4 linked regions of the Homo sapiens genome follow. The protein of the gene in region 1 interacts with the protein of each later gene in a pairwise test. Each region holds a gene or a part of one and is shown in the gene's direction. Other genes may lie near its edges.

Region 1 (7,622 bases):
TCACTGCATTAGCTTATTTTTTCCTCATTTTTAGTTCTTTCAAGAATCATTAATTCCATGCTTGAAAATGTCTGAATGGCACTAATGAGGATAAGTTTTTTAATCTTTTGAATTCTTAATGTGAACTAACAGGAAAAAAATCTCAGAGCTAACAAATTAGAGTTGGTAAAGGGCCGATTTATAAGTGTCTCACAATTTATGGGTGTAAATCAAAATGTTAACTAGTACAGTCATAAGCTGTTTGTACAATCCTTAGGCTTTAACTTCTTTGGAATTGGCAAGCTAGGCATTTGACATGTATTTATATAACTGTACGGTTGTAGTTATTAATGATCTTGTCATTATTGTTGATAATGAAAAAAGATCTTCACTATAATTTCTTCGTATAATTCTTATAATGAAACAAGTAAATACTATTAACTAGAAAAAATCTAGTCTGCAGTTAGCCCACACACATCCAAACTTATCTCTGCCAGCAGCAAAAGAAAGCTTGAAAACCTTTGCCAAAATCAGAAGTTTCCCATTTAGATTACATAAGTTTCTGTTGAATTGAAATATATTTAGATAACATTTAAACCATTGATCTTTTGGTATTAACTCTCAGATGTTTCATAACTTTCTGTCTTTTTAGTATTCAGGGATATTATGTAAAGTTTTTCCTGCACTGAATCTCTGTGCTTGAGCCTACTGAAATGATCCCCCTAAGCCATGCTGCCTGCCTTTTGTGTTTAATGTTTTTTTACACTGACTTATCTCCTTCGTGTGTTCACCTCTCCCCCAGAGGAAGACAACAGAACAGTATAATTTACAGTTTGTACAGGTTAAAAAAAAAAAAAAAGGTTGTAAGGTGGGGGGGTGATATTTTGTTTTAAAATATTTGGGTAAGGAAAATTTTGTCTTTAATATTAATTCTGTAATGCTTGACCAGGCATGGTGGCTCAAACCTGTAATCCCAGCACTTTGGGAGACCGAGGCGGGCGGATCGCATGAGGCCAGGAGTTCGAGACCAGCCTGGCCAACATGGTGAAACCCCGTATCTACTAGAGATACAAAAAATTACCCAGGCGTGGTGGTGCATGCCTGTAGTTCCCGCTACTCCAGAGGCTGAGGCAGAATTGCTTGAACCCGGAAAGTGGAGGTTGCAGTTAGCTGAGACCACACCACTGCACTCCATCCAGCCTGGGCAACAGAGCAAGACTCAGTCTCAAAAAAAAAAAAAAAAAAAAAAAACATAAAAATAAAAATATAATCCTTGACTGTTACCCAGTATTTTTACATTATTTATATTAATATCATTTGATCTTCACAGAGAATTCTATGGAGTACTGTAATATTATCCTCAGAGGGAAACTGAGGCATCTATGGATAGACATGCAGTGTGGCTTAGTGATTAAAGCTCTGCATGCTGGAAGCTGACACCTGGGTTCCAATCCTGACGCAGCCCTCGCCTCTCTCCGACCTTGTGCACGTTGCCTAACCTATCTGTGTTTTGGTTTCCTTATCTGAAAAATGAGAATAGTCTCTACCTCATAGGGTGTTGTGAGAATCAAATGAGTCAAAACATGCTAAGTGCTTTAAATAGTGCCTGACACAGAGTAAATGCCCAGTAAATATTAATTCAATATTTTTAAAATGTAGAAGTGTGTTACGGCTAGAAGGGGATTTTGCTGAAAGTGGAATCTAAACCTTGCAATTTTACATCCTGTTCTGTTCTATCACTTGGTAGAGAGTAACAATTACATCCCGATTTTAGTTTACACATGTTAACTAGCAGTTTAGCATTCATCAATAAACTATAGATACTTAAAAGCTTTAGCTATCAGAAGATCAGTCAAATTATAGGTAAATACTGAATACATTTAAAGAAAATGTAGAGGGTTTTTATTATCTTTAGTAACTCAACTAGGTTAAAATGAAGAAATTTGAATTTAAACAATACAGTAGTTTCCCCTTATTTGTGGTTTCAGTTACCCACATGGTACAGTATGATAAAATATTTTGAGAGACCACTTTCATGTACGTTTTATCACAGCATATTGTTATATTGTTCTATTTTATCATCAGTTATTGTTGCTAATGTCTTACTACACCTAATTTATAAATTAAAGTTTATCACAGGTATGATAGTATATATAGGGCTTGGTACTATCTGAAGTTGCAGGCATCCGTGGGAGTCTTGGAACGTATCCCCCTTGGGTAAAGGGAGGCTCTTGCTAACTTATTTATGTCCTTACTTATTGTGCAGAGGACTTGAAACAGTAAACACTGATGTCTGTATGGTGATTATAGTTCACAATTATTTTCATTTCTATTATCGTAATTGATCCATACACAAACTCATGTGAGATAGGAGGGCAAGTATTAATATCCCTAATTCACAGATGTAAGAAAAGTTGCAAGAATTTTGGGTGACTTTCTTAAGGGAAGTAAGTGACCAAGTTAAAACTGAAAGCAGAACCCAAATATGTGCATATTGATTCAAAACACAAAGTTGATTTAAAAATTAGCACGCAAAACATAAATCTAAAATATTCTTACTATTCAGCAAATTTTTATTGAGTAGCTACTATATACCAGGCATTGTTTTAGGTGCTAGAAATATAAAAAAGGAGTAAAATAAAGTCCCTGTCCTTGTAGAGTTTGTATTTTTTGTTTCTTTTGTAATTGCAGCAAATTGAAAATCCCTAGAAAATGGGGTTTACTGCTTAATTGGCTTCTACTTAACCGAGACTATATCTCTAATTATTTTCTTTGATTCATAAGGTACTTTAAGGATTTTTTTTCTTAGTGCCTCAGGGTTACTAAAAAGATCAACTGTAATGGCTTTTGATATAAATGATAAAAAAACTGATTCAAGTGTCCCATTTCAAATGAATAATTTGTTTTTTAACTGTTTTTCATTCATCAAATGCAGAATTTACCAAAACTGAATTATCTTAGATTTCTAGTTATTTATATATTAACTTTTTGTTTATTCAGAATCATTTTTCTGTTTGTTGGAATATTTCTAAGAGCCTTGGAAAATCTCGAGTAAAATTTTAAATGAATTTGTATAGTGTTCTGCCTCTTTCCAAAGGTATTTCTCAAAATTGGAATTGTTTTATTATTGAAGTTGAATGACTTCAGGGAACTCTAAAATGCAAGATGGAAGCTTCTGTTTGGTTTTTTCTTTCCCTTTGGTAAGGTCTTTTGCTTCCCATCCCCTTGACCCACCTTTGTGCTGTCTGTTGTCCAGTCTGCTCTCCTGATCCCTAAAGATGTTTCTTATCTAGGCTACCATTTATGTGGGTAAAAGACAAGGTAGAAAATACTCTTCTGTATCTTGTATCAAGGGTTAATCTAATATCTTCATCACTTTGTTTTGAGATATTTTGGAATGTTATCAACAATTATTATAGATGGAGCATGTATGTCTTAGGTTTGGTGTTAACTGTTTAACATGCATTATCTTATTCAATCCTCACAGCAGTTATAAAATGTAGGTGTTTTAGAGGTAAGCATATTATAGGTCAGGAGAGTTCAAAGAGTTAAACTACCAAAAGGGGATCTGAACCCAATTTCTGAATCTAGTGTTAATGATCTTACTATCCCAAACTCCTACTCCTGAACATTCTTAATCAATGATCAACAGCTTATCACTTGGCAGCTTTGAGCTCAACCCTGGTAACCAAGTCATACTATACTGAACATAATGAAGCAATAGAAGCAAAAAAAAAAAATTGATATTCTGGTTAGCCTTTGAAAATTTCGATAGCTTGATATATAAATCTCAGAAAAAGACACTCAGAAAAATGAGAAAAGGAATATGAATAGAGAACTTTATACACAGCCCAAATACTGAATAAACACAAAGTTTTAAAGGTCAAACTTAATGAAGAAATGGAGGTTGTTAAAATTACGATGCTATTTTTAATTTATGTATTTCTAGCAAAGAGAAGAAACACAGCTTGTGGGAGTATAAAATAAAGTCTTTATAAAAGAAGGGTTGGCAGAATGTGTTGGAAATGTTGTATATCTTTATAACTTTCTAGGCCCAGCATGGTGGCTCATGCATATAATGCCAAAACTTTGGGAGGCCAAGGAGGGAGGACCACTTGAGCCCAAGAGTTTGAGACCAGCCTGGGCAACATAGTGGTACCGTATCTGTACAAAAAAATTTAAAAATTAGCCAGGTGTGGAGGCATGCACCTGGAGTCCCAGCTACTGAGGCTGGAGTATCTATTGAGCATAGGAGGTCGAGGCTGCGGTGAGCCATGTTAATGCCACTGCACTCCAGCCTGGGCTACAGAGTGAGATCTTAGATCTTTTCTCAAATAAATAAAGTACAAGCAATAAATAACTTTCTACATACTGTATAGCAAATAACTAAAAAGGCAAGCAGGTACATAAAGATAGACGTTTGTTATACTTTTTATACTGCCAAAAGTTGGAAGTAACTTAATTGCAGAGTAGGAAATTTTTAAATAGGTTGTATATATAGTAGGATATTTTGCAACTATTAAAAATCATGTGGACTAGTATTACATGGGAAAAAAAGCAGATTATAAACAGCATATATAGTATATTTTATAAAACTACATGTTAAAAATGTACTTTACACATAAAGAACAAAAATGTATGGGAGGCCGTTTGTTTTAGACTGACCTGCACTAGGCACCAGCAGACCAGACAGAATTAGAATGGAGGCCCTTGTGCTGAGTGCCACATAATCAAACTGAACTTTGAATTTGAACTGAAATGAGCCAGTTTTCTAAAAAAAAAAAAAAAAAAGAGAGAGATTTCAGTCAACCTGAGTTAGTGAAATAAGACAGCCCTCTCTGTTTTAACCTGTAAAGAAAGTTTTCAACTTTAAAACAACCAATCTACTTTTTGTCCCTTATTTCTGCTTTCTTTAAACCTTTTCTGCCTAGAAGGCTAACCTCCTCTGCTTAGCTCATTAGAAGACCCATTTTATAGAATGAGCTGTTGCCCATTCCTAGAATCACAAATAAAAGTCAATTCGAACCTTAAATTTGTGCTAATTTTTTCTTTTGTTAACACCAACACTGGCTATTTCTTTGTGATGGGTAAAAGATAGTTTTTACCTCTTATTTCTATATTTTTCAAATTGTATGAGTAAACATTTTTTAAGCTTTTGTGATTTGAAAAAAACTTTCTTGAAGGTGAACTAAAGAAACAACTTTAAGACCTGTTACTAACCATGGATCTCTAATGATTGGAACAAAGATAGAAAACCATGACTCTAGAATAGAAAACTCTCTCTTCAACCCATGAAATAAATGCTTTGGACAGCCGAAGACTAGATTCCTCAGATGGTGGAGCAGAGTCTTATTTAAATCTTTTTCCTTGCTGAATGACTTACAAATAATACTGGGTATAAAAGGAGAAAATGGGAACATGAATTGAGCTTAAGGAATCAAATTTTAATGAATTTTTTCTAATTCAGGAAACATTTATCAAAGCCAGGATCTGAGGATAAAAGGCAGGAAATAACGGAGGGAGTTCAAACATCTTTGAATTAAATTACTTTAATAAATAATGTATATATACGATGAAGGCACAGAATCATAATAGCAAACACGCCATGCTTTCAATGTACCAAGCCCTGTTCTAAGTACTATGCACCGATTAACTTACTCTCTAGAGTAAGCCTTGGGGTAGAGACTGTTACCAACATATTAATAGCATGGAGGTAAACAGCTAGAACTCTGGAGCTGGCTTCCTGAGTTAGAATCTCGAATCCACCAATTACTAGCTGTATGATCATGGGCAAGCTGCATATACTCTTCACTGTTTTCTATAAAAATGTGGACAATCCTAGATCCATGTAGAATTGTGCTGAAGATTGTAAATCATTTAGAACAGCACATAGTGGTGTTAATAATGTTTTAAAAGCCCCGGAATATTAAAGCTAAGGAAATTAAAGTACAGAGATTACTTGTAATTTACCCCAAGTCACAGTGAGTGGGTGGAAGAGCCAGATCATGCTCTTAGTGGTTATCATAAATTGTGGAGGAAGACCCAAAGCAAAGCATCTTGGGAGGAGACTGGTGAGCTGTCTTGCTGGATGATAAAAACTTATCAAGATAAAGAATGGTATGGTAAGGGAGGAGCTCAGCACAGGAATGAGGCATGAAATAGAATGGTGTACATGGGGCAGTGTGGGTAGTTAGGTATGGTTGGGACTTTGAGTGAGTGGGAAGGTTCATAATGATAATTAAGGCTGGAGAGATGGGCAGGAGCCAGGCATGGAGGAACTTGTACTAAATAATACCTGTTTTACCTTGTGAATGGTAAGGATATAGGTAGAGTAGAACTGAAGGCAGGGAGATCAGTGAGCAAGCTATTGCAATAGTATTAGAGATTTGGGGAGCCTAACCCAGGATTACTAGAGATAGGATTGGAAAAGGGGAGATTTGAGGAATATCATAGGAGGTGACATTTACAAAGTTGATTCTGATTTGGGAAGTTAGTGGTGTCAATAATAGAGAATACAATGAAAAATGCTTTTTTGGTGAAGAATGCTGAGTTTAGAAAAATTATGGCAGGCAGTTGGAAATTTGATGAATCTGAAGTTAGGGTGAAAAATCAGGACTAAAGATAAAGATCAGGGAGTTAAATCATGACAACTAGCACATCTGTCCCTGCTTCTGGTAGATATGGGTACAAGACCAGAGATATTAAGTGATTTAGAATAAGGTCACAGAGTTAAGTACCACAGTCATATTCAATACAATTAACCCAAACCATGTTGTCTTTGGATTTTGTCAATGTTGTCAAAATTTTGACAACTTTTGAAATTTTGTCGATTTCAAAAATGGAAAATACATAATATGCCAGGCACTTGCTGGGCAATACAGATACCTGCAGTAATGGAGTGAGCACCAGCATCTTCCCTGATGGCGTGTGCAGTGAGGTGACTCGTCTGTAGTGTCCTCAAGGTCACGTAGAGAGCATACAGTAAATACTTGTTGACTCTTTCAAACTTAAGTTAATGATACAGTCAGGACTGATAGCCATTTTGTTGTCTTTCTTGAAAGTTTACGTGGAAGGCAGACCTTGTGTATGCTTTTCAAAGGGGCTCATTTAGCGCACTTGGCGCTTAAGAATTTGAGATCAGTGTGATGGTCCTAATCTTTTTTTAAAAGTATTGGAAGTTTGAACTCACCTGATGGGGTTGGTTTTTTTTTTTTTTTTTTTTTTTTCCAAAAAAATAATCATTCAAAATAATCGGTTAACATTTTCAATAAGAGCATTACATACAAGGAGTTAGGGAACAAAGAGTTTTAAAATCTGGCTCTTTTTATCTCTACTTAGGGCGTGCATCTTCTCTTCTTACCCCAACATATACTGACTTTTTAGGACCTCCTTTAGGGAGATCTCAATATCCCGAATTTTTCTGTGTGGAGAGGGGAAGGAATATGTCTTTTTTTGCTTTGGTCAGAGTGGATACATTTTATAGTTTGTTTTTTCAAAGACGGGTCTTCTGAGTCACTTCTTTCACTGCTGCCGTAAAGAAACTGTATAAAGGTGATTGAGCAGTGAAGGCATGGATAAAAGGGGAAATATTCAGCAGTTCTGAACGTGCATGTCATCAAATATAAAGGAGTGAGAACTTGATG
Region 2 (7,585 bases), on another chromosome or scaffold:
CCACATAAGCCTGGCAGCTGACAGTTCAAATAGAGCTGCTCCATGAGAGCTCTGATCTCCAAGGCCAGCCGGCAGCCTCTGCTCAGTCCGTAGCCTGGCCACAGCAAGCAAGCCCTGCCCACCTGCCCCAACTCCCACGCAGGCAGTCTGAGGACAGCTGTCACCATGGTCACCAGCAAACCCACTCAATATCTTGCATGCACTCAGACAAAAGGGTTTTAGAGGCTTGCACCTCACCTGGCCCCATCAGGCCAGGGAAGGGAGGACAAGGCCAGCTATCCCACTGGCAGGAATGAAGAAAGTGAGGCTCAGAGAGAGGAACATGGCCTTGGCAAAGCAGGATTAGAACCTGCACTCTGCCTCCCTCAGGAGGGCTGGATTAGCCTGCTAAGCCCCGGGTGAGGAGATGGCCTGTCCATGCTGGCTCTGACTCAAGAGACAGCTGCCCCGCACCAACCGCAGCAGCAAACAGCAGCCATGTCCTCCCCGAGGAGAGCCTGTGTTAAAAGCTGAAGATACAGGTTTTCTGCTTCAAAGTCATGGTGACCTTGGGTGAGCCCCTGCCTGGCTTCTTAGCCTTCTCATCTGGAAAATGGGGACTATTCCAAGCCTACCATTCACAGGGTTGAGACAAGGTATAAAAAAGATGAGGTCCTCATTAACACGGTGAAACCCCATCTCTACTAAAAATACAAAAAATTAGCCGGGCGTGGTGGCGGGCACCTGTAGTCCCAGCTACTCAGGAGGCTGAGGCAGGAGAATGGCGTGAACCCAGGAGGCGGAGCTTGCAGTGAGCCGAGATCATGCCACTGCACTCCAGCCTGGGGGACAGAGCAAGACTCCGTCTCAAAAAAAAAAAAAAAAAAAAGATGAGGGCCGGGCTGTCATGAGTCTATTTTTGGGCCACCTGGCACTGATGGGAGACACAGATACTGTCAGGGAAAGGAGACAAGGAGACACGCACTGCTGATCCTGCTGATTCTCCAAGGCATTTCCTCCATTAGCCCTCCCTGCCACTTCGGTGTTCCCAGCCCCACCCAGGATCAGACCCCTTGACTTCTTGCCTGGACTAGTGCAGTAGCCTCCTAACCCATCTCCCAATTCCCTCCCTCAATCCATCCTCCAACAGAGGCATGTGTCCTAGAGGAGAACAGAGTCCAGGCTTCGAGTCTAGCCCAGCCACCATGGAGGTAGGTGTTCTTTTACCTCTGTGATCCTCGGAATGCCCAAATAGAAGGTGACTACGTGCCCACCCCTTAGCCTTTCCCAGCCAGCGCTGCTGCTCCTCCCAAGCCCTTGCCTCATACCCCTCGCCCTACTGGCATGACAGCCTGAGGGGCGTCCCAGCAACACCAGCACACTCCAAGGCACGCAGTGAGCACTCAGGAAAATCCCAATCCCTCTGCCAAAAGGCCCAGATCCTTTCACCTGTTCCTCTCGGATGACCCTCAACATTTCTGCCGAGTGTTGACTGATCTCTGCTCCTGCACAGTTGAGCCTGACTTATCTCCATCACCCCAAAGCACCCTGTGTGTGTGTGTGTATGTGTGTGTACACAACTCCTATGCTCAGCCCCACTGCCACGCCCTGGGCCCCCGCTCAAGCTTCATCATCCCTCCTTGGTCTCTCCAGATGCAGCATCGTCAGATGGAGCTTATTACACGGTAAGCACCATTCCGTCCATGCCCCTGCTCAGAACTCTCAACACTCTCCAGCCCCTTGGACCCAGAATAAGGTCCAAACTCCTGAGCCGGACATGCAAGCCCTTTCTGTGACACTCAGCTGATGTGGGGCAGGGGTGGAGATGAACTCAAGCAACATTGTTCAGTGGAGACTCTGCAGACATTGGAGCAGGGGGCTTTTTCCTGACTGCTACTTTGCACAATGTCCCCTCTACTGAAAAAGGGCTTTTCCCTCTTCTCTCCTGGAAAATTCTGACTCACCCTTCAATGCCCAGCTCACATGCCCTCTCCTCTGGGAAGCCTTTCCTTTTCCCTCCACAATTCAAGTGTCTAAAGTTCTGGCCTCCAAGGCCCTCTTAGCTATTCTCATCCCTCTGCAGCATAACTGGAATCCATGTCTCTGTCTCCCACCAGGCTGGGACCTCCCTTGGCAGAGGTCCAATCCCCGTCTCTGAGCCCAGTGCCCAGTACAGAACCAAGGACTGAGGTGTCCGTGAAGGTGCGTCAAGCAACTCATGAGAGACATGTGACAGCAAGATGAGAGAAAACCAAAGATGTAACCACAAAAGTACCTTCCAGAAACTGGCCTAACCTTTGGTCCAGTCACCACCCCCTCCTTTGCCCAGGCCTGGTCTTGCATATCAAAAACCCTGAAAATCTTAAACATCAGTCAAGAAAGCCCCTACAGAGGTCACTGGACTGGACTGAGGCTTTAGCCATTCTAGAAATTGTTCAAACAACCAAAGCAAAAGAAAAAGCACAAAACAAAAACAAAACAAAACAAAACAAAAATCTGTTCCTGGTTAGCCTTCAGGTCAAAAGCTCACAGAATCTCCTAGGACCTGAGAAGAAGGCTTCATGGTGTTACTCAACCTCTCCCTGCTCCAGGTCAGAGCAGCCCCTCCCAGCCTCTGCTCAGCACCTAAGAGCTGAGGAGCACATTTCCTCCCCTCTCTGACCCTCGAAGCCAGCCTCCCTCCTTTGACTCCCCTGGGAGCCAGAGCTTCCTTGGGGGTACCAGGCTGCCCCTCCCGACACCAGGTGGTGCCCTCCATCTCTGGCCCCTCAGGTGTCTGAATGGCAGCATCTCTCTAGGTATTTTTTAACTGAACTTCTACCCAAGGCAACCCTGGGAAGAAGTGCTTCACCCTACTCCGGGAGGCCCATGTCTGGGCCACCAAACTGTCTCCTGGAAAGAAAAAGAAAAAAGGGTTTCACTGGTAAAAAGCAGCTGCTCTTCCTCAAAGGATAAGGAGGAGAGAGAAGGGAAGAAAGCAGGAGCAGCTATTCCTCCTCAGGAACCCACCACACACACCTATCCCTGCGGGGCCACCCCTCACAAACCTGTGAGGGCCGCACTCCACCCCAAGCTTTCTGGAAGGAAGGGCACCAAGCTGACACATCAGGGTCTCCGGTTTGCAAGGGCCAGGGCCGTAAGAGGGGGTTGGGGAGGGTATCCCAGGGCCCAGCACACTGAGAATAGGAAAAGCCCATTCCAAGCAATGGTGGCCTCGGGCCCCCCAGTTTGTGCCACCTCCCTCCCTCCAGTGCACCCGCGCCCAGCCCACGCTTGAGCTGGAGGGCCCCACGAAAAGCCAGCAAGCGAATGTACTAGGTACTGGGTGCGAATGCCCTCTTACCTGAAAGGGGAGGGAGCAGGATCACTTCGACATACAATTGATGAAGGGAGGGGATTAATGCCCAGAGAGGAATAGCTACTCGCCCAAGGTCACACAGTGAGGCCCAGGAGGCCCAGGATGCACCCAGATCTCCCGACTCCCAGCCCTGGGCTCGCAAGTCCAGGGTTCTCGAAAGGCCAGGGTGCAGACACCGCCCCCCAAAGACAGTCACACGCCCCCAACCCCCTTACCTCCCGGACCCCGGTGGGCCAGAGCCGGCTGCTGGGCGGGGCGCTCAGGCCGGGCAGGACGAGGCTGGGCCCGGCTAGGTCAGGGCTGGTCCTCTGCTCCCCCCAGGGTGGGGACGCCCTCAGCCAGGTCCCAGACGGAAGAGATGCTGCTTCCACTGCAAAATCCAGTCTTCCCACCCCGCCTGGCACAAGCCTCTATGTATCCAGGAAGCCCGACTCTGCGGCGCGGCCCCGGGGCTGCGGGATGAAGCATGGGGAGGGGCGAGGTGCGTGAAATGGGGCGGAGCCGGAGCGGGGGCCACCCCGCGAGCTGCCACTCTGACCGCGTCCCCTTTAAGGCCAGCCGGCCGGACACCGGCGGGGACGAGGCGGGGCGCAGAGCAACTCGCTGCAATGCCTCCTGGGAGATGGAGTTCGCTCTCGACGCGCCGAGCTGCGAGGAGCCCAGAGAGAACTACCAGTCCCGGAAGGCAGCGCACAGACCCCGGACCGCCACGCCCCTGGGCTGGGCTCCTACCCTCCGCCCCCCTCGCAAAGCTGCGCTGGCCGCTCGCGGAGGGAGAGGCTGCAGAGCGAGGGCAGGAGGTGGGTGCGGCACGGCCGGGGTCGCGGGGCTCGGGGACTACCGGCGAGGGTACGTGGGCCCACTGAGCACCTGTCTTACCATGAGACTAATCTATCCCAGCCTCGCCATTCCCATCTGTGAAATGGGGATGGCATCGCCTGTGGTGCGGGGGAGGGGGCGCGTTTCGGAGCGAGGTGAGCCGAAGTGGGCAGAGCTCTTAGAGGGGCGGGGCTGTTGGGAGAGCAAGGGCGGATGGTGATAGTCGGAAAAGCCCGGATAATGAGGGTCGGGACTGTGGGAGGAGTCCTTGGTGGGTGGGGCAAGGAGAGGCGGGATCTCTAGGTGGGGGTGGGGCACTTGTCAGGTCGGAGTGGGGGCTGTAGGGCTGGGGAGTGGGTGCGGAACAAGCCGATGAGGCCAGCCTGGGTGAGATTGGGGAAGGAAGGGCGGAGACACAGATGACAGGGAACTTGCCCCGCTCTGGAGAGCCCTGGGCCGGCCGCGCTGTGGCGGCGTGGGCAAAAGCCTGTGATGCATAGAACACCTCCCTTTACTGACTGGAAATAAAGAGTCCATCCCCGAGTTCAGTGCGGCACACCAGTGATCTCATTGACCTCCCACGCCCTGAAAAGTAGAGGCGTCACTATAGCGGTTGACAGGTGAGGAATGTGAGGCTCAGAAAAGCGAAGGGACTTGCCTAAAACCACTCAGGACTCCTTACTTCAAAGACCTTGCTTTTCTCCCTGCACTCGGGGAGGCAGAGGTTTAGCTTGGCGTGGGAGGCAGGAAAGAAAAGTTTTGATGCCCCGACCTTCGCAAATTGTCTGGCAGGACCAGTCCCCCCAACCCTTCCGAATGACAGCCTGTAAGGCAGCCCTCCTATAGTACTGTGAGGATGAAATGAGATGGATTTGAAAGCACGGTGTTTATAAATTACTGTTTGGAGGAGACATAGGAAGAGAGCGGTTTGAAATGGGGTGCTGGTGCCGGAGGAAAAGCACAAGGTGAAGCGTGAGAGTGAGCCGAGAAGGTGAAGGAAAGTTCTGGAAGGGGCTGGGGGATGGTAGTGGTTGTTGGAGGTCTACGCCAGATGAAAGAATACCTTGCCGTGCCAGATTCCGTGGTCTCCTTCTTCCAGCCCACCTTTCTCTCCTCCTGCCTTTTGCGCAGCTCATTCTGGGGTCCCTGTGTCTAGGAAGCACCTTTTCTCTCCTCCCTATGGGTTGTGATGGTAATAGAGCAGCCTTCGGATTTCTTAGAGATATGGACTGGGCAAGACAGAATTATAGACGCAGCTCTTTGATGTGGGGTGGTCAGGAAGAGGAGGTGAAGAAAGGGTAGTCGTCCTAGGGGCTTCAAGGCAAAGAGTCCTTTCTCCGGTGGGGTAAGGTGGGGAAGTCTCCCACTTACTGGAAAACACAGTACTCACTCTGAGCATTGTCTTTTTTGAAATTTACCCAGCCACGTGCTGTCCATTCCCTTACGCAGTGGAAACTCTCCTTGCATTTACTCCCAAGTAATCACCTCGGCCTTGTCACATCCCTTTAGATTCCAGATTGAAAATTGAACAGAGCATTTCAAAATTAAAAAGTTTTGAAAATCCAGGTGGGGAAAATGGATCTGACTAAACAGGAGAGAAATTTCTTCCTCTTCCCCTATTCTACGTGCTTCTGTGGATATAGAAAGGGGCACCCCCAGCCCCAGCAAGGGAGCCAGGCATCCATCTACTTAAGTAAAGTTGGCTGTGGTAAGGGGTTAGACTAAAATTCTCCGCAGATGCAGAGGAGAAGGAATGAATTCCAGCTGAGAGACCTGGCCGATGCATGGGATTTGTCTTCAAGGTCCAGGCAGAGGGGATGGCAGATGCCAAATTGCAGAAGTCGAAGAGGGCCCAGTATGGTTGGTCTGTAAAGTAGGTATATAATAGTATCTACTTAATCTGTGAGATTGAAAGAGATTAACATGTATAGAGTGCCTAGCACGGTAGTAACTGCTCAATAAACGTTAGCCATTATTATTGCCGTTGTAGTGTTTGTTGTTGTTATGATCATCATCATCTGCCCAGGAACGTGCCCAGGGCTGCACAGCTAGTAAGTGGCAGGGGATGATTCAAATGCAAACCCAGGTAATGCCGAATACCATGCATGGTCTGCCCCTACCCCACACAGCCTCTCCAGTTCTTTTCTTTTTTTTTTTTTTTTTTTTTTTTTTTTTTTTTTTTGAGACAGGGTCTTACTCTGTTGCCCAAGCTGGAGTGCAGTGGCGTGATCTCGGCTTGCTGCAGCCTGACCTCCCAGGCTCAAGCGATCCTCCTACCTCAGCCTGTGCAGCTGGGACTGCAAGCACGTGTTACCATGCCCAGCTAATTTTTTTTTTTCTCTATAGAAACGAGGTCTCATTATGTTGTCCAGGTGGTCTCAAACTCCTGAACTCAAGCGATCCTCCCACCTGGGCCTTCCAAGTGCTGGGATTACAGGCATGAGCCACTGAGCCTGGCCTGTCTCCAGTTCTTTCTGCCCATCCTTGACATTTCTGAGGCCCAGGAGTGGCCTCTCTTTGTCAACATTCACAGTGAGTCATGACAGGAGTTTCTTTCCTGCCGAGTTACAGAGATTCTGGGTTCATGATGAGGCAGGAAAAACAAGGCCTGAACAGCCATCTTCTTCCAGGCAGAATCACAGCACAGAAGATAGGCAGACCTGGCCGGGCGCGGTGGCTCACGCCTGTAATCCCAGCACTTTGGGAGGCTGAGGTGGGTGGATCATTTGAGGTCAGGAGCTTGAGACCAGCCTGGCCAACGTGGTGAAACCCCGTCTCTACTAAAAATACAAAAATTAGCCGGGCATGGTGGCACGCACCTGAAATCCCAGCTACTCAGGAGGCTGAGGCAGGAGAATCACTTGAACCTGGGAGGCAGAGGTCGCAGTGAGCCAGGATCACGCCACTGCACTCCAAACTGGGTGACAGAGCGAGACTCTATCTCAAAAAAAAAAAATAGGCCTAGTGGTGTGGTTTCTGTGGGTGGTGGCTCTATCCAGACTGCCCACCCAGGCTTAGATTCTAACTCCTCCACCACTTAGCCCTGGTTGGCATCCTCACCCTTCAAAATTCAGAAACACTTGGGAAGGAAAATTATGAGCTTTTCACACTTCTAAGTAGTAGTAGTAAATCTGTAACTTACTAAATCTGGCGACTTATTGGGGTCTGGCACAATGACTGTAACTTTACATCTATTGGCCCTATGAAGAAGTGTTCTTCCCCCCTCTTTTAAAATACAAATATTTTTAAAATTTTCAAGCTTACATAAAAGCTTAAAGTACAACCCTTAACCTAGATACGCCAAATCACAATTTGCCAATTGTGCTTTTACACAAACACACACTTTTTTGGCCCAATTATTTAAAAGTAAGTTACAGATATGTTGATTGACGTTTGACCCCTAAATTCTTCAACATGTATCCCCTAATA
Region 3 (7,622 bases), on another chromosome or scaffold:
CTCCGTCTCAAAAGAAGGAAGGAAAGAAAGAAAGAAACTGGCAAACTATTTTCTTTTTTTTTTTTTTTTCAAATGGAGTCTCACTCTGTCACCCAAGCTGGAGTGCAGTGGCACTATCTCAGCTAACAGCAACCTCCGCATACCAGGTTCAAGTGATTGTCCTGCCTCAGCCTCCCGAGTAGCTGGGATTACAGGCAGGTGCCACCACACCCGGCTGATTTTTGTATTTTTTGTAGAGATGGGGTTTCACCATGTTGGCCAGGCTGGTCTCAAACTCCTGAGCTCAGGCAGTCTGCCTGCCTCGACCCCCCAAAGTGCTGGGATTACAGGGCATGAGCCACTGCGCCCATCCTGCCAAACTATTTTCTAGAGCGGCTGTACCATTTTACATTCCCACCAGCAATTTATGAATAATCCAGTATGTCTACATCCTCTCCAGCATTTGGTATCATCACTTTTTAAAAAACTTTTAGCCCGGCACAGTGGCTCACACTTGTAATCCCAGTACTTTGGGAGGCCAAGGCAGGTGGAATATCTGAGGTCAGGAGTTTGAGACCAGTCTGGCTAACATGGAGAAACCTCATCTCTATTAAAAATACAAAAATTAACTGTGTGTGATGGCATGCACCTGTAGTCCCAGCTACTCAGGAGGCTGAGGCAGGAGAATTGCTTGAACCCAGGAGGTGGGGGTTGCAGTGAGCTGAGATTGTGCCACTGCACTCCAGCCTAGGTTACAGAGTGAGACTTCTCGATAAAAAAAGGCCGGGTGTGGTAGCTCACGCCTGTAATCCCAGCACTTTGGGAGGCCAAGGCAGGTGGATCACGTGAGGTCGGGAGTTTGAGACCAGACTGACCAACACGGAGAAACCCTGTCTCTACTAAAAATACAGAATTAGCCGGGTGTAGTGGGGCATGCCTGTAATCCCAGCTATTTGGGAGGCTGAGGCAGGAGATCACTTGAACCTGGGAAGCGGAGGTTGCAGTTAGCCATTGCACTCCAGAGATCACGCCATTGCACTCCAGTCTGGGCAACGAGAGCAAAATTCCATCTCAAAAAAAAAAAAAAAACAACTTTTAGCCATTCTGACAGATGTGTAGTGTGTCATGTGTGTTGTGTGTGTGTTGACTCTTCTCTCACTTATCTATGAGAAGAGAATTAATTTAGGTACAGATAATGGCTATTGGCTTTTATTAGAGGTCTCAAAAATATATAAAGACTTCAGGCCTTCTTTTGACAGATTATTTCTGCAGTTTTTTTTGTTTGTTTGTTTGTTTTAAGACAGGGTCTCATTCTGTCACCCAGGCTGGAGTGCAGTCGCGAGTTCTTGGCTCACTACGGCCTCAACTTCCCAGGCTCAGGTGATCCTCCCACTTCAGCCTCCCAAGTAGCTGGAATTACAGGCATGCTCCACCATGCCTGGCTAATTTTTTGTATTTTTTTTGCGGAGACAGTGTTTGCCATGTTGCCCAAGCTGGTCTTGAACTCCTGGGCTCAAGTGATCCTCCCACCTTAGCCTCCCAACATGCTAGAATTATAGGTGTGAGCCACCTTGCCCTGCCATTTCTGGGCGGATTGATAAGCTAATTGGCCATAGGTGACCTAGAGTCAGACACCTTCATATAAGAGCTTCAGACTTGGGACTTACTTGCATGGCTTCCAAGCCTGCAAATCTATACCCTTCCTTTTTGAGCCATTCTCAGTGCTCTATTAATCCTTTTTGTTTCTCCCTGAAGGGCCATGCCTTACCTGTTGATTCGAAAATTCAAAGAGATATTAAAAATAATATATCAAGGAATATATTTTACTTTCTCTTTCTTTGCTTTTTTGTTGAGATGGGGTCTTGCTGTGTTGTCTAGGCTAGTCTTGAACTCCTGGATTCAAGAAGTCCTCCAGTCAGCTGCCTGAGTAGCTAGGACCACAGGCACACACCACTGTACCCAACCTAGAATATATTTTAGTTTATTTTCTAATTAAAAGCAAGCAAAACCTCTTTGTTTTATTATGCATTCATCACCTCCAATTGGTGTCCTTTGACTTGTAGTTCTAACTGTACCTGCTGGTAAGGTTGCAGAGGAGACTGTAATTAAAGAGGAAGAAGAAGAGAAGTTGCCACTAACAAAGAAACCAAGGATAGGAGAGAAGACAAACAGTGTGGAGGAAAGCAAGGTAATGTTTTTAGGAGTGATGAAAAGAATTTAAAGCCTTAATTATTAAGGCCTGAACCCTTCTTCATCTTTTCTTTTTTCTTTTTGAGACGGAGTCTTGCTGTGTTGCCCAGGCTGGAGTACAGTGGCATGATCTCAGCTCACTGCAACCTCCGCCTCCCGGGCTCAAGTGATTCTCATGCCTCAGCCTCCTGAGTAGCTGGGATTACAGGCACCTGCCACCATGCCTGGCTAATTTTTGTATTTTTAGTAGAGACAGGGTTTTGCCATGTTGGCCAAGTTGGTCTCGAACTCTTGACCTCAGATAATCTGCCTACCTCTGCCTCCCAAAGTGCTTGGATTATAGGTGTGAGGCACCGCTCCTGGCCTGTCTTTTTGTCTACTGTCTGGATAATTTATGATCAGGAATTTACCTGGTGGTGACATGGCTTACTTTTACAGGAAGGCAATGAAAGAGAGCTACTACAGCAACAACTCCAGGAGGCCAATCGAAGAGCCCAGGAATACCGACACCAGCTCCTAAAGAAAGAGCAGGAAGCAGAACAGTACCGTCTTAAGCTGGAGGCCATAGCCCGACAGCAGCCCAATGGAGTTGATTTCACCATGGTTGAAGAGGTGGCTGAGGTAGATGCTGTAGTAGTCACAGAGGGGGAGTTGGAAGAGAGAGAGACAAAAGTGACTGGGTCAGCAGGGACCACAGAGCCTCACACTAGAGTTTCCATGGCAACTGTTTCATCTTAATATGCAAGGGCCACAATTTGCACTGTGTTCATATTAATCCTCTTTTAAAAAAGGAAATATACAGAAGACAAACATTGTATAAAAACTAAGAGTGTCTTTAAGAAGAAAACTATAGCAGGGTACAATGCTTGGGCTCAGGAAGTTTCTCTGTGCAACTAGAAAATTCAAAGCCATATTTAGGGAACATTTTTTCTGAGGGGCCAAAAGAATAAAGGACCAAATTTCTTAGCTCATATCATTGCTTTAAACATAGAAGTAAAAGAATACTGCATGTTGTGGGTTGATTTTTTTTTTTTAAATAACTGACTTTCTCACAAAAGATTTTAAGATAACATTTCTAATATATATGCACCAATATATATGCCTTTAATAATTATACCATCAAGTGACCTGAAAATGCCCCTTAGATTTATGATGCGTATCTGTTGGAAAAACCAATTGGAAGGGAAGTTAGACAAGCTTTGGGGAAGAGAAAAGGAATATAGTCCATTTCCAAAGGAGCAGGAACTCCCAACCTTAAGTTAATTTCACTGAAGAGAATTTTCCCTTTTTTTTTTTTTTTTTGAGACACGGTCTGACTCTGTCACCCAGGCTAGAGTACAGTGGTGCAATCTTGGCTCACTGCAACCTCCGCCTCCAGGGCGCAGCCTCCTGAGTAGCTGGGAGGACAGGCATATGCCACCACATCACTGAGAAGAAATTTTTGATTGTCTGACAGATACTTATCCATTATGTGTCTATAGTTCAGATGCTTGTGTAAGAAACTGAAATAAGCTGCGTGTGGTGGCTCACACCTGTAATCCCAACACTTTGGGACGTTGAAATGGGAGAATTGCTTGAGTCCAGGAGTTTGAGATGCGCCTGGGCAACATAGAAACCTGTGTCTACAAAAAATTTAAAAATTAGCCAAGTATGGTGACAGGCACCTATGGTTCCAGCTACTCAGGAGGCTGAGGTGGGAGGATCGCTTGTGCCTTGGAGGTCAAAACTGCAGTGAGCCATGGTTGCACCACTGCTCTCCAGGCTTGAGTGACAGAGCAAGACTGTATCTCAAAGGAAAAAGGAAACTAGGCCAGGCGTGGTGGCTCACGCCTGTAATCCCAACACTTTGGGAGGCCGAGGCGGGCGGATCACGAGGTCAGATCAAGAACATCCTGGCTAACACGGTGAAACTCCATCTCTACTAAAAATACAAAAAATTGGCCGGGCGCAGCGGCTCACGCCTGTAATCCCAGCACTTTCGGAGGCAGAGGCAGGCGGATCACAAGGTCAAGAGATTAAGATCATCCTGGCCAACATGGTGACACCCCGTCTCTACTAAAAATACAAAAATTACCCAGGCATAGTGGCACACGCCTGTAGTCCCAGTTACTTGGGAGGCTGAGGCAGGAGAATTGCTTGAACCTGGGAGGTGGAGGTTGCAGTGAGCCAAGATCGTGCCACTGCACTCCAGCCTGGCGACACAGTGAGACTCTGTCTCAAAAAAACAAAACAAACAAACAAAAATACAAAAAATTAGCCGGGCGTGGTGGCACCTGCCTGTAATCCCAGCTACTTGGGAGGCTGAGGCAGGAGAATCGCTTGAACCCGGGAGGCGGAGGTTGCAGTGAGCTGAGATCGCACCATTACACTCCAGCCTGGGCAACAGAGCCAGACTCTGTCTCAAAAAAAAAAAAAAAGGAAATTGAAATAGAGTTTTTAAAAACTGAACTGGAAAGCCGAGGCGAGCGGATCACCTGAGGCCAGGAGTTCCAGACCAGCCTGACCAACATGGAGAAACCCTGTCTCTACTAAAAATACAAAATTAGGGCCAGACCCGGCAGCTCATGCCTGTAATCCCAGCACTTTGGGAGGCTGAGGTGGGTGGATCATGAGGTCAGGAGTTCAAGACCAGCCTGGCCGAGATGGTGAAACCCTACTAAAAATACAAAAATTCACCTGGCGAGGTGGCAGGCACCTGGAATCCCAGCTACTCGGGAGGCTGAGGCGGTAGAATCACTTGAACCCAGGTGACAGAGGTTGCAGTGATCCAAGATCATGCCACTGCACTCCAGCCTGGGCGATAGAGTGAGACTCTGTCTCAAACAAACAAAACAAAACAAAATTAGCTGGGTGTGGTGGCACATGCCTGTAATCCCAGCTACTCAGGAGGCTGAGGCAGGAGAATCGCTTGAACCCGGGAGGCGGCAGTTGCAATGAGCCGAGATGGCACCATTGCACTCCAACCTGGGCAACAAGAGTGAAACTCAATTAAAAAAAAAATAGAAAAGAAAGAAAACTTGTTTATGTGGGAGGAGTATATATAAAACCAAAATCCAGGCTGTGTTTCCACAGTGCTGGGAAGTGGCCAGAAAAAGGCTTATAGGGGCTATGAAACTCTGGTCTTGACATATAAACTTTGCTCTGACTGGATTTCATAAAATTACAGTGAGGAGGGTAGTCTCTTGTCAGAAAAACTTGTTTCCAAACATTTATGTAATGTCAAGCTCAGTCTCTCTTTTTTTTTTTTTTTTTTTTGAGACGGAGTCTTGCTCTTGTTGCCCAGGCTGGAGTGCAATGGTGTGATCTCAACTCACCGCAACTTCCACCTCCCGGTTTCAAGCTATTCTCCTGCCTCAGCCTCCCGAGTAGCTGGGATTACAGGCACGCGCCACCACGCCCGGCTAATTTTGTATATTCAGTAGAGACAGGGTTTCTCTATGTTGGTCAGGCTGGTCTGGAACTCCTGGCCTCAGGTGATCCACCCGCCTTGGCCTCCCAAAATGCTGAGATTACAGGCGTGAGCCACCCCGCGCACAGCCTAGACTCTAATTTTATAAAACTTTGTTGAATTTTCTAAGTGTCATTTAGGACATATTGTGCTTTTCTGTGGAGCTTATATCTTATCCTCTTATGTGCAACAAAAAGGGGGTCGGAGGTAAATGCTGATGATGTTGTTTAGTTTTATTTCCTTTTGATCTGGCATGAGTAAATTGCTCTGTTTCCTTAAGCTTGGGTCTGTTACAGAGCTTTGTGCCTTATAGGGTGCTCAGTGTGTGTTGACAAAGGGAATAAGAACTGTCAGTGCCATAAAGAACCAAAGATTCTGGCTACTTTGTCTTCTTCCTTTCTCTCCCACTATGCCTACACTTCCTCTGCCCAGACACTTTTGGAAAGTGTTTAACTGCTGGGTTTTCTTTTTCTTTTTCTTTTTTTTTTTGAGACGGAGTTTCACTCTTGTTGCCCAGGCTGGAGTGCAATGGCGTGATCTTGGCTCACCGCAACCTCTACCTCCTGGGTTCAAGTGATTCTCCTGCCTCAGCCTCCCGAGTAGCTGGGACTACAGGCATGCGCCACAATGCCTGGCTAATTTTGTATTTTTAGTAGAGATGGGGTTTCTCCATGTTAGTCGGGCTGGTCTTGAACTCCTGACCTCAGGTGATCCACCTGTCTCGACCTCCCAAAGTGCTGGGATTATAGGCGTGAGCCACTGCGCCTGACCACCTACCTGCTGGGTTTTCTTTGTATGTCAGCATGGAGTTTTTCCCAAAGAAAGGGAATATGGATGGAGAGAGAGAGGTTATGAACAGGTTATGTTACAGAGGTTATTGCCTTTGAAACTGGGCCCTCATCATTCTAGACTTGCTTGCTTTGTTATAAATTAGAAGAAACCAGAGGGAGATGTGCCAAGTAAACATTCGAATGACTGTTTAGAATATGGTTTTCTTAATTAGCAGTCATGGGGAAAACATGCATTTTTAATTTGGAAAAAACCTGACAGTTAACATGGTTCTGTTTACCTTGATTAGTGAAGTAATTTGCTGCAGTGTTACAGAGGAGCAGAATCACTTGGGTCTCAAAATAGACTGAAAATTTAACTCCCCAAACCAAATTTAACAAACAGAATTGGTTATTAGAGATTTATAGGCAAAAATATCAGTTTGGAAATTAACCTTGGCTACTGGCCACCTTAGCTAGGTTTTCTCCACAGATCTGTTTTCTCCACAGATCTGAGTACTTAACACTTCCCAGATGATTGGAGAATATTCTGGGCTGTTGGGGATGACAGGAAAATGTGAGGGGGAGTAGCCTAGGTAAGGGTGATGATGAAATTGTTCTATCTGCTGTCAAATAATCTTTTCCTGTTTGCAATGTTTTTATTTTTTCTGAGTCCCTTTGGGAACCAGGTGCTAACAAGAAGCTGTTATGTGTGGGATTTCGGAGCCTTACTTTAACGATAGAGGAACCAAGTATCATTTTAGATATCTTTTATTTATGTTCTCGGTGCATATGTTGACTTTAATCCCTCTTCCCCCACACCTCGCCCATTAAGGGGAAGGAGGTTAACTCTGCAGATGATATTCAGGCCCAACCAGCTCACTCTCTGGGGTGGCTACTGACTAAAGGCAGAGAATGTCCATCCAACATGCCCTTCTGACTATACAGTCACCACTTTTTTGGGGGAATTCTTTAGCAGATCTTATTGTTCTTTCTGCAGAAGCTATCATTCCTACCTCCCCAACCCCCAAAATCTCTAATACAGGCCAAGTCATTTTTTATGATGGGTCTCTGAGATAGGGCAGTTTGTTAGAGGAGAGGCTAGGGTAGAGAGGGAGAGAATGGAGGTATCTGAAAATAAGTAAGAAAAAGGCATTGATTTTTATTTACTCGGAACGGTCCTCTTGGCATCCCAGATAAGGGAAATAGGATTTGATCTCCAATTGTATTGCCATGGA
Region 4 (8,315 bases), on another chromosome or scaffold:
TGAGAAGGATGCAAGATTTCTTGCTTGACTGACAGATGTGGAAACTGAGGCCCAGAAGAAAGCAGCAGGTTTGCCAAGACTGTGCTACCTCACCTTCTTGGAGGAGTGCTACTACAAATAGTTCCTGGGAGAAGGGGTCCTGGTGATGAGTGCTGCGTTCTCTCCCTGAGTCCACTCGCCCGCCTGCCACCCTCCACCGTCGCACCCTGCAAACCCACCCCTCTCCTGTGCTAGAACTTGCTAACACCAGTACCATGCCCTACCAATATCCATTGCTGACCCCGGAGCAGAAGGAGCTGTCTGACATGACTCATCGCATCGTAGCTCTGGGCAAGGGCATCCCGGCTGCAGATGAGTCCACTGGGAGCACTGCCAAGTGGCTGCAGTCCATTGGCACCGAGAATACCGAGGAGAACCGGTGCTTCTACCGCCAGCTGTGGCTGACAGCTGACAACCGCGTGAACCCCTGCATCAAGGGTGTCATCCTCTTCCATGAGACGCTGTACCAAAAGGCGGATGATGGGCGTCCCTTCCCCCAAGTTATCAAATCCAAGGGCAATGTTGTGAGCATCAAGGTAGACAAGGGGGTGGTACCCCTGGAAAGGGCAAATGGTGAGACCACCACCCAAGGGCTGGATGGGCTGTCTGAGCGCTGTGCCCCATACAAGAAGGATGGAGCCCACTTTGCCAAGTGGCATCATGTGCTGAAGATTGGGAAACACACCCCCTCAGCCCTCACCATCATTGAAAATGCCAACATCAGCTGGGCGCGGTGGCTCACGCCTGTAATCCCAGCACTCTGGGAGGCTGAGGTAGGTGGATCATCTGAGGTCAGGAGTTCGAGACCAGCCTGGCCAACATGGTGAAATCCCATCTCTACTAAAAACACAAAAATGAGCTAGGCGTGGTGGCACACACCTGTAGTCCCAGCTACTTGGGAGGCTGAGGCAGGAGAATCGCTTGAACCTGGGAGACAGAGGTCGCATGAGCTGAGATTGCACCACTGCACTCCAGCCTGGGTGACAGAGTGAGACGCCGTCTTGAAAGAAAAAGAAAGAAAAGAAAGAAAAAGAAAGAAAGAAAGAAAGAAAGAAAGAAAGAAAGAAAGAAAGAAAGAAAGAAAGAAAGAAAGAAAGAAAGAAAAGAAAGAGAAAATGCTAGTGTGTCAATGTCCTGGCCCACTATGCCAGCATCTGCCAGCAGAATGGCATTGTGCTCATCGTGGAGCCTGAGGATCCTCCCCAGTGGGGACCATGACTTGTAGTACTGCCAGTATGTAACCGAGAAGGTGTGGCTGCTCTACAAGGCTCTGAGTGACCATGACATCTACCTGGAAGGCACCTTGCTGAAGTCCAATATGGTCACCCCAGGCCATGCCTGCATCCAGAAGTTTTCTCATGAGGAGATTGCCATGGCAACTGTCACAAGCACTACACTCTGGGGAATAAGCGGCCTAGAAGGATCACAACTGGGCCAGAACAGGGCCCACCCAGACTCATCACTGAGGCAGGTGGGGTCATTCTCACTTCACAGACACAAAAACTAAGTGCTGCACTGCACAGTGTCCCCCACTGTCCCTGGGATCACCTTCCTGTCTGGAGGCCAGAGCAAGGAAGTGTCCATCAACCTCAATGCCATTAACAAGTGCCCCCTCCTGAAGCCCTGGGGCCTGACCTTCTCATATAGCTGAGCCCTGCAGGCCTCTGCCCTGAAGGCCTGGGGCAGGAAGAAGGAGAACCTGAAGGCTGTGCAGAAGGAGTATGTCAAGTGAGCCCTGGCAGATAGCCACGCCTGTCAAGGAAAGTATACTCCAAGCGGTCAGGCTGGGGCTGCTGCCAGTGAGTCCCTCTTCATCTTTAACCATGCCTAGTAAGCGGAGGTGTTCCCAGGCTGCCCCCCAACACCCCAGGCCCCATCCCCTCCCACGCTCTCTTGAAGAGGGGGACTCCTCTTCGGGGCTCCAGGCTGGCTTGCCCGCGCGCTTGCCTCCCTCGTGACAGCGGTGTGTGTTGTCTGTGAATGCTAACTCCATCACCCTTTCTAGCACATTGCTAATAAACAGCTATTTAAGGGAGAAAAAATAAAAATAAAAATAAAAATAGTTCCTGGGGCCCAGAATAAAAAGGGGGAATTCTAGGGGCTGGGGTTGACATTTTCCTTTTGCCTTGACCATTGGGTGGGTACTATGTGCAGCAGCCCCGGACGGTGATAGTGATGGTAATGATGACCATGATGCAGACTGGGTGGGAGGGAAAAAAGTCCCCAGCGTCATCCCTGGGATGGGGCCTGACCTTGCCTCAACTCCAGCTGCCCAGGGCCAGAGCGAGTGATAAGATGAGTTTATACTGTAGCTCTGAGAAGGAAGGGAGGGAGGGAGAAGGAGGGAAGGAGGGAAAAGGGAGGGAGGGGTAAGGGAGAGAGAAAAAGGGAGAGAAAGGGAAAAGAAGATGGGGAAGGAGGGAAGGACAAGGGAGGAGTGAGAGGCGAAGAAGGAGAAGGAAAAGAAGAAAAAGAAAGAAGAAGAGGAGGAGGGGGCGGAGGGGAGAAGAAGAGGCCCCGAAGGATCACAACTGGAGCAGAATAGTGCCCACCCAGACTCATCACTGAGGCAGATGGGGTCATTCTCATTTCACAGACACAAAAACTAAGATTTAAGGCATGAGGCAATTTGCTCAAGATCTCAGAGTTAGGACTAGAACTCATGGCTTATGCCTTGCTCTTCAAGGTCTCAAACCTTGAACCACTCAAGAAACATATTCCAAGATACCTCACCCTTACCTCATCAGAAAGGGGAGCTGGTTAAAATGCAGATTTCTGGGTCAAAATCAAAGGTGTGTGGCACAGGAATCTGCATTTTGACCGGTACCCTGGGGGTGGTTCTTTGGGCCCTGACACTGGGAAACCCCGTGGCTCATTTAGGGCCTTTCTGGTCTGACCTCTTGGCGTCAGGTCCTGACCATACTCCCGTTGCCCAGCTATTTGGGCTGACTCACGCTGACCCCCCAACCGCCACCCCCACAGGGCTGAGCCTTTTCCATCCAAGGCTTCACCCACAGTCTCCCAGTCGCATGTAGATCCACCCTTCCAACCAGCACCCGCTTCTCTTCTGGAAGCCTTCCTCGTGGTTGGGATCCTCCTCTTTCAGCGCCTGTTGGAGTAATAGCCTCCTCCTCTTCCTCCATCTGGAGTTGCTTACAACACTCTATTTCACTTTCCATGTGAGTCGGCCTTGTTTCCCAATCTTTCTCTATATTAAACAGGAAACTCCCAGAGGGCTAGGGACTGGCTGGTTTAAACAATAAGCCTCTGAAATACAGGACTTCACCTGACCCTCCTGCCAGCCACAAGTGGCAGGGCGGGAGAGCTTTACAAATCAGGAAACCAAGCCTTGAAGAGGTTGTGGCCTGCCCAAGTCTATGGCCAAGTAAGATTCAGAGCTGGGTTTGAAACCCATGCCCAACTCCACTATCCAGTTCTTTCTGCTTTGGCTTTGGCTCTGATCACCCCCAAAAAAACCCTATGAGGGCCAGGCGCAGTGGCTCAAGCCTATAATCCCAGAACTTTGGGAAGCTGAGGGTGATCACTTGAGGTCAGGAGTTCAAGACCAGCCTGGCCATCATGGTGAAACCCCATCTCTACTAAAAATACAAAAATTAGCTGGGCGTGGTGGTGTAATCCCAGCTGCTCAGGAGGCTGAGGCAGAAGAATCGCTTGAACCTGGGAGGCAGAGGTTGCAGTGAGCCGAGATTGTGCCACTGCACTCCGGCCTGGGCAACAGAGGGAGACTCTGTCTCAAACAAACAAACAAAATAACAACAACAACAAAAACAACCTGTGAGGCAGGCATTTCAGGGATTATGATCCTATTGCCCAGATAAGGAAAGCAAGGCCCAAAGATGAGCAAAGCACTCAATATCATCCTTATTCTGTTCCCACTTCCAGCTGCACTTGGGTCCAAGTCCAAGTGCTGACCTTTTCTCTCTCATCTTCTCTGGGTGATGGGCACTGCCCAGGATCTCTTGGCTGAATGGCACAGAACTGGGTCTCGAGCTCTCAGACCAAAGCCCTCATCCTGGACTGGTCCCACTGCCACTCTGAACCCAGGTGCCTCCTCTGAAGGTGGAGACTCACCTCACCTGCCTTGCAGCCAGCTGGGTGCTCAGAGACAGAAATGCAAAGTACCTGGACACACCCTGGTCACCATCATTCTGGACTTTGTCCCTCTTGTTAATGCTCAGCTGGGAAAGGAATACCCTCAAAGGCCCTTTCCTCAAGAATGGAGGAGAGTACCTCTGAGCCTGGCACAGGCCCAGCCCAACACAGCCCAAGCCAAGCTGGGAAGGGTGTGGGGCAAGGAAGCCAGACTGACATTCCTGAGACGGGTTTGCCAAGCCCTACACTTTATGTGTTGTACCCGGGAAACTCAATGGAGGTATGGCCCAACGCTGACCTTTGGCATGGAGGCCTAAGCCACCCTGCTGGTGCCCAGGGTGGCCAGCAAGGGGCTTCAGACAACCCTGGATGGAAAATAAAAATAGTGGCTAATATTTGTTACACGCTAACTATTGTCAGGCCCTGTGCCTTCCCCTCCTCCCCAAGTGCTCAGAGCTGTGGAGTGGATGGGTTCCACCCTAGCCCTGTTCCTCTGTCCCCTCTGGATCATCTTAGACCAGAAAGTGCCACAGCTGAGTGTCCCGCTTCTTCCGCATCCTGCCAGGACCACTCCATTTGTGGGCGATATAGCCAGCTCCACCTCCTCCGGGAAGCCCTTGTTCACAGTTTCCAAAGCAAGCCGCAGGCGGGATGGATCCTGCTTAACACCCCGGCCCAGAACCCCTTGGATCTCCTTCTTCCTCCATGTCCAAGACACCCAGCTTAACAACCCTGTAGCCCCCAACTTGGCCCTAGCGGCACCTCGCCTCGACCTTGCCATTTTATACTCAATTGGGGCGTAGGGTTCTGAAGCCCAGGGTAGTTGGTGGGGAGGCAGCACGAGGGTGCAGGATGAGGTCGGGAAAAGAGACCTCGTCCGCCCACCGCCTAGCGCTTCCTCCTCCCTGCAGGCGAGCCGGGGAATCCCCGGCAGCACCGATATCCGCAGAGCCCAAGAAGTGGGCCTCTCTGCCCCGCCCCCCCGGCTCGCCGAGGGCTACGCGGCGCGCCTGCGCAGAAGAAGGCAGCGCCCAAGGCGCATGCGCAGCGGTCACTCCCGCTGTATATTAAGGCGCCGGCGATCGCGGCCTGAGGCTGCTCCCGGACAAGGGCAACGAGCGTTTCGTTTGGACTTCTCGACTTGAGTGCCCGCCTCCTTCGCCGCCGCCTCTGCAGTCCTCAGCGCAGGTGAGGGCCCGCGCGGTAGGTGCGGCGCCGGCCGAGGAAGCCCCGGGGTGTCCTGCCAGCCGTGGCACCGCTGCCCCGGGTGCTGGGACCCCATCCCCCACTGTCCCAGTCACCCGCCGCCTTGAGGTCAGCGTTTATCCTCCAGATCTTTTGCCTAGACGGCCGCCTCAGTTTCCCCCTTTCGGCCCCTTCCGGCTATTCCCGGTTGAACCCGCCGCTTTAGAATTCCCTTCTCATACCCCTCCCGTCATTCTCGAGACCTCGACCGCGGGTCACCTCTGACCCCCACTGCCGGAGGACTGCCTTCTTTCTCCAGACTCAACTCCCTCGACTTTATAAGCCCCTGCGCGTCCCCAGTGAGGCCCAAGGCGCTGGCCCTCATACCCCTACCCTCATTTGTGCCCCTCCTTTCTCAGTTATGCCCAGTTCTTCCCGCTGTGGGGACACGACCACGGAGGAATCCTTGCTTCAGGGACTCGGGACCCTGCTGGACCCCTTCCTCGGGTTTAGGGGATGTGGGGACCAGGAGAAAGTCAGGATCCCTAAGAGTCTTCCCTGCCTGGATGGATGAGTGGCTTCTTCTCCACCTAGATGTAAGCCAAGATGTCTTATCTGCACTGTGCATCTCCCTAAGAAACCTCTGGCCTCCCAAACCTGTTCTTGACCTTTCCCTCATCCTTCCGCCCCCTTGATTATGTACTGTCAGTATTCATTTGGTGAAGTTGCTTTGCAGGTGCCTTTGTGTAGCGCTGGAGAATGAAGAAGTTGGTGACCCGGGTAAAGTGTGGTCACCATTCCTTAGCTCACATCAGTGCTGTCCTTAGGCATTTTTGAGGGAGAAGTGTTAGTATTCCAGGGTACCCTTTATATAAACTGCGGTTGACACCTGAATCCAGTGAGCTTGCAGTGATATTTGCCTGATTATTAACAACTGTTGATGTCACTCTTCATCAGTCTTTCCACAGGAGCCAGCATACTTCCTGAACATGGAGAGTGTTGTTCGCCGCTGCCCATTCTTATCCCGAGTCCCCCAGGCCTTTCTGCAGAAAGCAGGCAAATCTCTGTTGTTCTATGCCCAAAACTGCCCCAAGATGATGGAAGTTGGGGCCAAGCCAGCCCCTCGGGCATTGTCCACTGCAGCAGTACACTACCAACAGATCAAAGAAACCCCTCCGGCCAGTGAGAGTAAGTGTCATTGACAATGAAGGAGCAGGTATGGGTGTTTGTGCTCATTGGTAGACTAGAAGCAGTCCCCACAGTGGTGGTGAGGGTCACACTCACTCACAGAGGGCTGCTATGTGCAGGCTGGGCTCTGAGCACAGATTATCTCATATGATTGTCCCCCCAAGGGTAGGCACTTTTAGCTTTTCCATCTTTAAAGGTGAAACAGTGGCCAGTGTTGCACATTACAGGTTTTTGGATTGCACGTTAGTGTCTATAGGGGTTTTAGTGTTTCCTCAGTGCCTCGTTCACATAAATATTAAATTGGAATGTTCTAATTTCCCTCATTAAACATTTAGCCTTCTAATTTCCCTCATTAAACATTTGGCCTTCGGCTTTTTATTTATTTAATTTTTCTTTTTTGAGACTGAGTCTTGCTCTGTCGCCCAGGTTGGAGTGCAGTGATGCAGTCTCGGCTTACTGCAACCTCCACCTCCCAGGTTCAAGTGATTCTCCTGCCTCAGCCTTCCAAGTATCTGGAATTACAGGCATGCACCACCACGCCCAGATAATTTTTGTACTTTTAGTAGGGTTTCACCTTGTTGGTCCGGCTGGTCTCAAACTCCTGACCTCAAATGATCCACCTGCCTCAGCCTCCCAGAGTGCTGGGATTGCAGGCGTGAGCCACCGTGCCCGGCCCCTTTGGCTTTTTAAAGTAGTGATTTTTTTTTTCTTAAAAGTTTTTGTTCTGTTGTGGTAAAATGCCCAAGAAAAATTACCATTTTAAGCACTTAAAAATGTGCAGTTCAGTGGTACATTCATATTGTTGTGTCACCACCACCATCCATCTCCAGAACTTTTTTCATCTTCCCAAACTGAAATTCTATACCCATCAAACAGTAACTCTCCATTCCTCTCTCCCCAACCCCTGACAACCACCATTCTGCTTTCTGTCTCTATGAATTTGACTATTCTAGGTACCTCATATAAGTGAAATTGTACAGTATTTATTAGTGATTTTTAAAAACAAATTTATCTTGGCTGTGTGCAGTGGCTCACTCCTGTAATCCCAGCGCTTTGGGAGGCCGAGGTGGTTTGATCACCTGAGGCCAGGAGTTCGAGACCAGCCTGGCCACATGGTGAAACCCCACTGTTACAAAAAATACAAAATTAGCTGGATGTGGTGGTGTACGCCTGTAATCCCAGCTATTTGGGAGGCTGAGGCATGAGAATTGCTTGAACCCGGGAGGTAGAGGTTGCAGTGAGCTGAGATCATGCCATGTATCTTTATTTGTATATACATTTGTTGTTGTTGTTTTTAACAAAGAGACTAGAGTTGAATTTAGTTTGCTCTGCTTCTGATAGGAGAGAACAAAGCTTTTCAGGTTCCACTTAATCCCAGAGAATATTTTACAGGTTTTTCTTAGGCGTGTTCTCTGGGTGTGGGCTTGTAAGAAAATAAGTTTTTTTTTTCTTTAAGCAGAAAGGATTTAATCCTTTGTAGGGTTTATTTTCAAGAGTTAGTTACGTCTTTTTTACCAAAATGCTTGCAATGGCTATGTTTTAAATGATAGGATTTTTTTCTTTTTCTAGACTTTAATGAATATGTATTACTTTTATAATAAATGAAATTAACTTCAAAATAATTTTTTTGGCCTTCCGTTATAGAAGATTTTAATGAAAACTGTATTGAGACACTTTACCCAAGTTATAGGAAAGGCTAGCCAGTGACTCACAGGAGTGTTCCAGAATGATGAAGAAAGACTTTTCTAGAAAGAAGGTGAATGAATTTGCTCAAGGGGAGAGGGAAGTCA

Evidence for each region.
Region 2: the proteins of LONRF1 (region 1) and KCTD21 interact in binary tests that used the Homo sapiens proteins (3 or more experiments, as listed by UniProt).
Region 3: the proteins of LONRF1 (region 1) and GABPB2 interact in binary tests that used the Homo sapiens proteins (3 or more experiments, as listed by UniProt).
Region 4: the proteins of LONRF1 (region 1) and ALAS1 interact in binary tests that used the Homo sapiens proteins (3 or more experiments, as listed by UniProt).

The regions. Positions count from the first base shown.
Region 1 is NC_000008.11:12,744,905-12,752,526, reverse strand, and holds part of LONRF1 (LON peptidase N-terminal domain and RING finger protein 1), read left to right. Parts: intron 1-7,622.
Region 2 is NC_000011.10:78,185,125-78,192,709, reverse strand, and holds the start of KCTD21 (BTB/POZ domain-containing protein KCTD21), read left to right. Parts: upstream 1-4,083; 5' UTR 4,084-4,137; exon of another isoform or gene 4,138-4,186; intron 4,187-7,585. UniProt on the Homo sapiens protein: Probable substrate-specific adapter of a BCR (BTB-CUL3-RBX1) E3 ubiquitin-protein ligase complex mediating the ubiquitination and subsequent proteasomal degradation of target proteins. Promotes the ubiquitination of HDAC1.
Region 3 is NC_000001.11:151,115,350-151,122,971, forward strand, and holds part of GABPB2 (GA-binding protein subunit beta-2), read left to right. Parts: intron 1-2,042; coding exon 2,043-2,167; intron 2,168-2,607; coding exon 2,608-2,907; 3' UTR 2,908-7,622. UniProt on the Homo sapiens protein: May function as transcription factor capable of interacting with purine rich repeats (GA repeats).
Region 4 is NC_000003.12:52,192,916-52,201,230, forward strand, and holds the start of ALAS1 (5-aminolevulinate synthase, non-specific, mitochondrial isoform 1 precursor), read left to right. Parts: upstream 1-5,244; 5' UTR 5,245-5,340; intron 5,341-5,756; 5' UTR 5,757-5,903; coding exon of another isoform or gene 5,904-5,933; intron 5,934-6,294; 5' UTR 6,295-6,305; coding exon of another isoform or gene 6,306-6,326; coding exon 6,327-6,525; intron 6,526-8,315.